Regions from separate parts of the Homo sapiens genome. Here region 1 is linked to region 2. A link means that fine-mapping ties the variant in region 2 to the plasma level of a protein whose gene starts in the linked region. Region 2 holds a variant in brackets. A gene starts in the other region. All regions are shown on their forward strands.

Region 1 (4,395 bases), not on the chromosome of region 2:
CGGCTCCCTTCCTTATTATCACCAGCAGCCGTACCTTTTCACACACCTCTGCATTTTGCCGTTCCACCCCACCGTCTCTACCAGGACTCAGTCCCATGTGAAGGTGGGTCCTGGGTATGGCAGAGCCTTCCTCATTACCCTCTGCCTCCTCGACCTGCTGTTCCCTCCCTCCTTTCCTGTAGGAGAGCTGCCGCTGTGGGGACAGGTGGGAGTAGGTCAGGAAGCTGGATGGAGGTACACATTTCAAAGTTTTATGTAAAAAATTTGAGTTGGTGGAATTACCAGAACTAGGAGTGAAGCCTTAGCAGGTAGGCCTTTCAGAAATAGTGAAAATGAGTCCCCAAATCTCAATGGTGAATTTTTCTGAGAAATGTTACAGAAACATAAAGTGACAAATTTTTGTCTTTATATTGATAAGATAGATAGATTAGTAGAAATTGAGAAGAGATTGTCCAGGTTTTTTCTGTTGCTTATTTGTATAAGCCCAGTACATTGACGGACTATATTGGGAGTCCCTAAGCAAATGCCTGCAGGGACCAGGCAGTTAATACAGCAAACTTCAGAGGCTCATCTGCTTTAGCCAGTTCTTGCCATGGTATGGTGGAATCATTGTTGCCACATCTGATTTCTCAAGAGAAGCTTTAAAATCCAATTTGTATGTGTGTATGTATGAGTATGTACATGAGAAAGCTTTCAGTTTTAAAATGTTGGCTCAGATTTTTAAAAAGCAGACCAAAGACTTATATTCCACCTCTGCTCTAGACTTAGAGAATCTGTTCAGGATAAAGCTTAAAGAAAAGATGACAATGGAAAAGAGTCATTGGTCAAGTATTAAGTACTGACACTTAGGGTTTCCTGAATATAGTAGTGAGTGCTACTTTAGAAGAGATTCCCTCTAGTTCAAATGCAGTTACAATCTCCAAATACATGCTAGCAACTCACGATTTAAATTCTCTTTGACATAATTTGTATGGTTCAATCTCCCTCATCCTGCTTTTCTTCTTTTTCTTTCTTTCCTTTCCTTTCTTCCTTTCCTTCTCTTTCCCCTCCCCTCCCCTCTTTTTGTTTTTAACAGATGGGGTTTTACTATGTTGCCCAAGCTGGAGTGCAGTGGCAATTCAGAGTGCAGTGGCAATTCACAGTGTGATCATAGCTCACTGCAATCTTGAATTCCTGGCCTGAAGCTATCCTCCAGCCGTAGCCTCCCAAGTAGGTGGGAATACAGGCATGCACCACTGTGCTCAGCTCTGCCCTCCCTTTTTAAAGGTCAGACTGAAGTTTCAGTTTTCTGTATCCATAGAGCTGACTTTGCTCAGGAAATTTACAACTTACCTAATTTGAACGCAGCTGGCCAAGTCTGTATTTCCCTCCAGGAATGTGCACAGTTGTGTTCAGACCGTTTAGCAGGTTGGGGTGTGGAGGAAGACAGATGAATAGTAGGGGCTTTACTCCAGCCTCTAGCTGGGGATTTTCTAAGATACTGTCTTCAGAAAAGGAAACATAGCTCGAAGTTGTACCTACATGGAAGGACCTCATCCTCCAGGTGGCAAAAATTTGTAGTATGCCTGTTAGAATGAGGTTCCTTCCTGAAACTTCTGGGAGATCTAGAATTTAAAGCTATGTCATTCTCTTGTAGGTAATCAGAAATCAATTGGAAATTCCTGCTTGAAGAGATAGATATTCTTGCCCCACCTCAATCCTTCCAGCACAGATTTGGGAGATACCCCCCTTTCCAGTGAAGGCCTAAGTGTCCAGTGCCCCCACTCACCTTCTGAGGCATGTAGGGCCGCACAGACAGCCAAGGCCACGATGGCGAGTCCTCTCTGCTGCATTCCTGCCTGCCCTACTGGCACTGACAGCAACACAAGTGAGGCTGTTCGATCAGGAAATGAGGCTAAAGGTGTCCTTGGGCACAGAGAAAGTGCAGAGGAAAAGTAAGCCAGGTGGCCCCGCCCTGGGAGGTGTTCAGGGTATCTATTTCTCATGTTTCTTTCCTTAAGACCAGGCTCCTCCTCGACTTATTAAGCTCCTAACTTGTGTTCATCCTGCCTGGGGGTCAGGGGATGTCAATGGAGATCTGGCAGCTGGCAGGGTCACTGTGAGGTGGGGTGTGCATCAGAATCATTTGGGGAACATTAAAAAAAATCAATCTAAATGACTCTCCCCTTTCCCTGATTTGTAAACCAGAACTCCCAGGTAGGAGACCAGTCATTTGAATTTTGTAAAAGCTCTATAGGTGATTCTGATGGACACTTATGTTGAGACCCATTGCATAATCAGTTTTTAAGTAGCTTATGGAAACCATGAGTTTCTGGGGACAAGGGTGACAAGTCATAAAAAATGTATCTTTGTGGAAAGATATGGAAGTATTAAACCCCACTTTAGTCTTGGTTCACAGCCAAATTGTTTCCAGTGAAGCTTTTTACAATAGCTTATTTAGGAGAAAGACAGGAAGGGGGGCAATGCCTTGTAGAAAAGAGCCCAAGAGCAGGTGTGAAGAGGCATGAGCGCTAGTGCAGCTTTGCTGCCAATCAGCTTTGTGAATAAAAGCATGGGGTAGCATGAAGATAATTGGATTCTAATTGTTCCTCATCTACTAATAAGTTGTATAACCTCAGGCAACGTACTTAACTTTGCTGTAAATAACAAGTCAGACTAGATGACCTCCAAAGTCATGCCATGCTTCCTCTAGAACTGTGTTGTCCTATGTGGTAGCCGCTAGCCCACATGTGGCTCTTGAGCACTTGAAATATGAGTAGTCCAAACTCAGATGTACTATGGGTATAAAATTCACACTGGATTTCAAAGACTGGGTACAGAAAAAAATATAAAATATCTTGTTAATAATGTTTATACTGTTTATTGATTACATGATAGTATTTTGGACTTTTTGGGTTAAATAAAATATATTATTAAAATTAATTTCACCCATTTCTTTTTATGTTTTCAAATTACTGCTGTGGTTTGAATATTTTTTTCTTCTCCAAAGCTCATGTTGAAAATTAATCCCTAATAGTGCTGGGAGATAGGGCCTAATGGACAATGTTTAGGTTATGATGGCTCCACCCTCATGAATGGATGAATGCTACTATAAAAAGGGCTTGTGGGAATGGGTTGGTACCTTCTGCTCTTCTGCCAGGTGAGTACACAATGCTCCTTCTCTCCAAAAGATGCAGCAAAGTGGCATCATCTTGGAAATAGAAACTGAAATCACTGGAGCCTTGATCTTGGACTTCCCAGCCTCCATAATTGTAAGAGAATACATTTCTGTTATTTATAAATTGCTCAGTCTCGGGTTGTGGTGTTATGATATATATATTGGCTTTTATCCATGGTTCCTGGCTTATAACTCCCATAACCCTTGTTACAGTTTTTTTTTGTTGTTTGTTTGTTTGTTTTTTTTTTGAGACAGAGTCTCGCTTTGTTGCCCAGGCTGGAGTGAGTTTCACCATCTTGGCAAGATGCTGGTCTTGAACTCCTGACCTTGTGATCCACCCGCCTTGGCCTCCCAAAGTGCTGGGATTACAGACATGAGCCACTGTGCCCAGCCCAGTCTTTTTTTTATATTATAATGTTGGGGCACTTTAGGCTTCAGGAACAGGCCTCAGGAAACGGAATCTCTCTCTGACCTTCTGTTTTTCTTTCACCTGCCCAAGGCAGGACTCTAATCTGATTGTGGGTCATAAGATCCTCATTCCAGAAAGGGTTCTGTCCCATACTCTAGAGGAAGGAATGCTACACAGGCCAAGAAAAGCCTGAACAGGCAGGACTTGCTGGGTTTAGATTATGTGCTTTTTGTCTAATCACATTTCTACATGGTTGTTAATCATGCCTATGTAATGAAGCCTTTGTAAAACCCCAAAAGGGCAGAGTTTGGAGAGCTTCTGGATAGCTGAACATGTGGAGGTTCTTAGAGGGTGGCGTGCCCAGGGAAGGCATGGAAGCTCTGCATCCCTTCCCCCATACCTTGGCCTCAAGCGATCCTCCTGCCTTGGCCTCCCAAAGTGCTGGGATTACGGGCATGAGCCACTATGTCTGGCCTTCATCTGTATCTTCTGTACTGTCTCTTATAATAAACCGTTAAATGTAAGTATTTCCCTGAGTTCTGTGAGCCACTCCAGTGTTGCAGGAAGTCAGGAACCCCGAATGGAGGGACCAACCGGCTGAAGCCATGGCAGAAGAACATAAATTGTGAAGATTTCATGGACATTTATTAGTTCCCCAAATTAATACTTTTATAATTTCTTACGCCTGTCTTTACTGCAATCTCTGAACATAAATTGTGAAGATTTCATGGACCCTTATCACTTCCCCAATCAATATCCTTGTGATTTCCTATGCCTGTCTTTAATCTCTTAATCCCATCATCTTCATAAGCTGAGGAGGATATATGTC
Region 2 (4,395 bases):
GGGTTCAAGTGATTCTTCTGCCTCAGCCTCCTGAGTAGCTGGGATTACAGGCACATGCCACCACGCCCAGCTAATTTTTTGGATTTTTAGTAGAGATGGGGTTTCACCATGTTGGTCAGGCTGGTCTCGAATTCCTGACCTTGTGATCCACCCCTCCTCGGCCTCCCAAAGTGCTGGAATTACAAGTGTGAGCCACTGAACCCAGCCGCCCAGGCTTTTTTTTTTTTTTTTTTTTTTTTTTTTTTTTTTTGAGACAGTCTTACTCTGTTGCCCAGGCTAGAGTGCAGTGGCGCAATCTCGGTTCACTGCAACCTCCGCCTCCCAGGTTCAAGTGATTCTCTTGCCTCAGCCTCCCGAGTAGCTGGGACTACAGGTGCGTGCCACCACACCTGGCTAATTTTTGTATTTTTAGTAGAGACGGGGTTTCACCTTGTTGACCAGGCTGGTCTTGAACTCCTGACTTCAGGTGACCCGCCTATCTTGGCCTCCCAAAGTGCGGGGATTACAGGCATTAGCCACCGAGCCCAGCCTCAGCTCCCACTTACAAGTGAGAACATGCAGTATTTGGTTTTCTGTCCTGCACTAATTTACTTAGGATAATGGCCTCCAGTTCCATCCATGTTGCTGCAAAGGACACGATTTCATTCTTTTTTATGGCTGTGCAGTAGTCCATGATGTATATGTACCACACTTTGTTTATCCAATCTACCATTGATAGGTACCTGATACCCAGAATTTTCTAAAAGCATTTCTGTTTATAATGATACCGTAGAGGATTAAAGATTGGTGCAATTTTTTTTGACATTCTTTCCGTTGAGAGATGGGGATCTGTGTCTCTTCCCCTTGAACATGAGCTGGTCTATGCCTGCTTTGACCAATACAATACAATAGAAGTGATACTGTACCTGTGCCAGTCATAGCCTTTAACAGGACTAGAAATTTCCACCTTGGCCTCTTGGAGCCCTGAGTTGCCACATTAGAAGTCTGGCGACCCTGAAATGCCATGGTGGAATAGCTGTGTTGGGAGGGGAGAGGGAGGGAGGGAAGGGGATGTCTTAGGCAGCTTCCAGCTTCGATTTGCATCATCTCAGTCCAGCTGATGCTCCAGATATTGCAAAGCAGAGAGAGATGAACCTCTTTTCTGACTTCTTTGAATTCCTGACCCTCAGAATTGTGAGAATTATATCAAAAGTATAAACTGTTTTAAGAACTAGGTTTAGGAGGAGTTTATTAAGCATCATTAGTTAACTGGGTTTTTGGAGTGTGGCGACGGTATTTGTGGACACTGTCCCAGGAACATGAGCTGTCATATCCCCTCCTCTTCCACTTCCCATTGCAACCAATAAAGGCTGTTCCTACTATAAAAAACAGAGAGAGTGGGAGAAAGAAGAAAAAATCTCCCAAATCATTAACTAGAACAGATGTTTTAAGATAACCAACAATTACTTTAATTCATAAATGTATATACATAGATTACATAAAGAAATTAAGTACACATGTTGCATTTTAAAAATGTGTCTAGCAGGTTATTGTACAAAATTAAAATGAATTTAAGAATACATTTTAACATTTTTAAAATTAGTTAATCATATATTTATTTATCTATTTTATTTATTTATTTTTGAGACAGAGTTTTACTCTTGTTGCCCAGGCTGGAGTGCAATGGTGTGATGTTGGCTCACCACAACCTCTGCCTCCCAGGTTCAAGTGATTCTCCTGCTTCAGCCTCCCGAGTAGCTGGGTTTGCAGACATGCACCACCATGACCGGCTAATTTTGTATTTTTAGTAGAGACGGGGTTTCTCCATGTTGGTCAGGCTGGTCTCGAATTCCTGACCTCGGGTAATCCCCCCACCTTGGCCTCCCAAAGTGCTGGGATTACAGGTGTCAGCCACCGTGCCTGGCTAATCATATATTTAATATTAAGACTTAAGGCTTTAGAAAAGTTATTATTCAAAAAATAACTGATATTGCTTCAAAAGTGATTAATTCACCATGGTATAATTAACAAGAATGATGCATTTCATTTAAGTTGCAGAAAAAAATTATGCGGATCCTTCCTAAGTATTTTCAGTTTTTTAAAAAAAATTTATTGCCACATCACAAGGAGTCAAGAGGATCCTTCCTAAGTTTCATATCCACACAAAAATGTGATGCCTATATAGTGACCAGAAACAATAACTATGAAAGTGGAGTCGGCTCTCTATCTTGGAAACAATTTTAATCTGAAAGCATCAGTCAGAGGACCCACATAAAAAGCCATATACTGATTTGTGGAAAAGTAATAACTTATTGAGCTGTTTCCAGGAGACACAGATTCTTGGTTTCTGAGTTCCTGAGCTGTTCACTCACTGTGCCAGAACAGCTGACTTCCCACAGTGTGTACTTGAGTATCTCAGCAACTGAGGACCGGAAGCGAGCTTGGAACTTCTTACTAA[T/C]TAGGACATAAAGGATGGGGTTCAAGCAACTATTGAGGAATGCCAAACCAGTGGAGAGGGGGATTCCAGCCTGCATCACATGGTGGGAATAGCTATTGTGGTGAATGGTGAGCTCCCAAATGCTAAACAGGTGATAAGGAGTCCAGCAAACCACAAAGGCCACAACCACAACCAGAATTGTCCAGAAATGCCTACTGGAGATCAGGATGCTTCGCTTCTTCACCTTGAAGATGAGACACAAGTAGCAAATACTCATTGTTAGCAAAGGGAAGAGATAGCCAATGATAAATTTCACCCAAGTCAGAACATGGTGCCTGATCAAAGTGAGGTCAGGATCATGCTTCTGAAAATTGTTATAGCAAAGAGTATGATTATTGAACTCCACAGTGTCCCGGAAGTACAGGGCAGGACCGCCAATTAGAGAAGCCAAAAGCCAGATGAATATAATGACAATCAGAGAGTTCTTGAGGGTTCGATGCCGATGAGATAAGACAGGATGGATCAAGTGGATATAGTGGTCCAGGCTGATCACTGTCAGGAAAAAAACACTGGCAAACATGTTCAACTGGGCAGTGAAGGAATTGGCTTTGCACAGCCAGATGCCAAAGGGCCAGTGGAAATTCATGGCCACATAGGAGATGTACAGGGGCAGAAAGAGAAGAAAAATGAAATCCGCAATGGCTAGATTGAGGAACCACAGAGTGGTGACTGTCTTCTTCCACTTGAACCCCGTGAACCAAATGACGATGGCATTTCCTGGAATTCCCAGAACAAAAGCCAAACAATATAACACCAGGGAGACCCAGTGAACAACTCCCAGCTGGACTTTCTCCTCCAAATCAGACTCCAGAGAGTAATAGTCTAGGTCATAGGAATAGTTTTCAAATTCTTCAAATAATGTTTCCTCCAAATCTTCCATGACCTTGCTAAATGGAGAATGAAGAAATCTGTAGAAGCAAATTTAAAAAGAAAGAAAAAATTTTAAAAGAAAAATAAAAGTTCAGTGAATGATAAGGAACGTGAAGATAAAAATATTTCAGGTTATGGACCAGACATAGTATTATTTTTTCTTTTTTTTGAGACAGGGTCTCACTCTGTTGCCCAAGCTGGAGTGCAATGGCATGCTTTTGGCTCACTGCAGCCTTGACCTCCTAGGCTCAAGTGCCTCCTACCTCAGCCACCCCAATAACTAGGACCACAGGTGCTCATGACCATGCCCAGCTAATTTTTAAATTTTTTGTAGAGATGAGGTCTCACTATGTTGCCCAGGCTGGTCTTGAACTCCTGGGCTCAAGTGATCCTCCTACCTCAGCCTCCCAAAGTGCTGGGATTATAGGCATGAGCAACTATACCCAGCAAATATAGTATATTTTTTGATAGGACTTGTGGTTATACTCCATATGTTCAAGTCTTGGTGAGCCTCAGTTTCACTCTGATTATCATTCTCCCAGCATGAGAGTTCCTTTCTGTAAAGTATTTAGTACTTGCTAAATTAAAATGAATGACTCTACGGTTATAATTCTTCAGTTCGTAATGCTTGTAGGGCTGACTAGAGAGAATTCAACAAGCATTTATTAGATTCCTACTATGCATTATTATTTTATGGCAGATGCAAAAGAAAACGGATTAATACTTACAGAGTGATAGCTTCAAAATCTGTATTTCAGCCAGACACAGTGGCTCACACCTGTAATCCCAGCACTTTGGGAGGCTGAGACAGGGAGATTGCTTGAGACCAGCCTGGGAAATATAGCAAAAACCTGTCTCTACAAAAAATAAATTTTTAAAATAGCCAGATCTAGTGGCTCATGCTGTAGTCCCAACTACTCAGGAGGCCAAGGCAAGAGGATTGCATGAGCCCAGGAGTTTGAGGCTGCAGCGAGCTATGATCAAGCCACTGCACTCCAGCCTGGGCAACAGAGCAGGACCCCACCTCAAAACAAATTTTTTCCTGAAAA

Direction of the effects. Alleles are on the strand shown, and positions count from the first base shown. The strength of an association depends on the size of the effect and on how common the allele is.
As copies of T replace C in region 2, the plasma level of the protein whose gene starts at base 1,907 in region 1 goes up (moderate association).

The links. A credible set is the group of variants that fine-mapping cannot tell apart. PIP is the posterior inclusion probability: the model's chance that the variant is causal. The UK Biobank Pharma Proteomics Project read protein levels with antibody pairs (Olink). The fine-mapping took linkage between variants from a reference panel, not from the people measured, so its PIPs are less certain.
Region 1: CCL28 starts here. The variant in region 2 is the best candidate, but not a certain one, in a credible set for the plasma level of the CCL28 protein (UK Biobank, PIP 0.62).

What each region holds. Positions count from the first base shown.
Region 1 is chr5:43,410,485-43,414,879 of GRCh38, forward strand. CCL28 (C-C motif chemokine ligand 28) reads right to left here and starts at 1,907. Exons shown (of 3, transcript NM_148672.3): 1 at 1,769-1,907. The coding sequence starts at 1,832.
Region 2 is chr2:206,173,892-206,178,286 of GRCh38, forward strand. CMKLR2 (chemerin chemokine-like receptor 2) reads right to left here. Exons shown (of 2, transcript NM_001389445.1): 2 at 1,425-3,384. The coding sequence starts at 3,356. The coding sequence ends at 2,289. Among named protein-coding and RNA genes, the nearest start is that of SNORA41, 14 kb to the left of the region's middle. The variant T/C (reference allele first, on the strand shown) is at 2,438.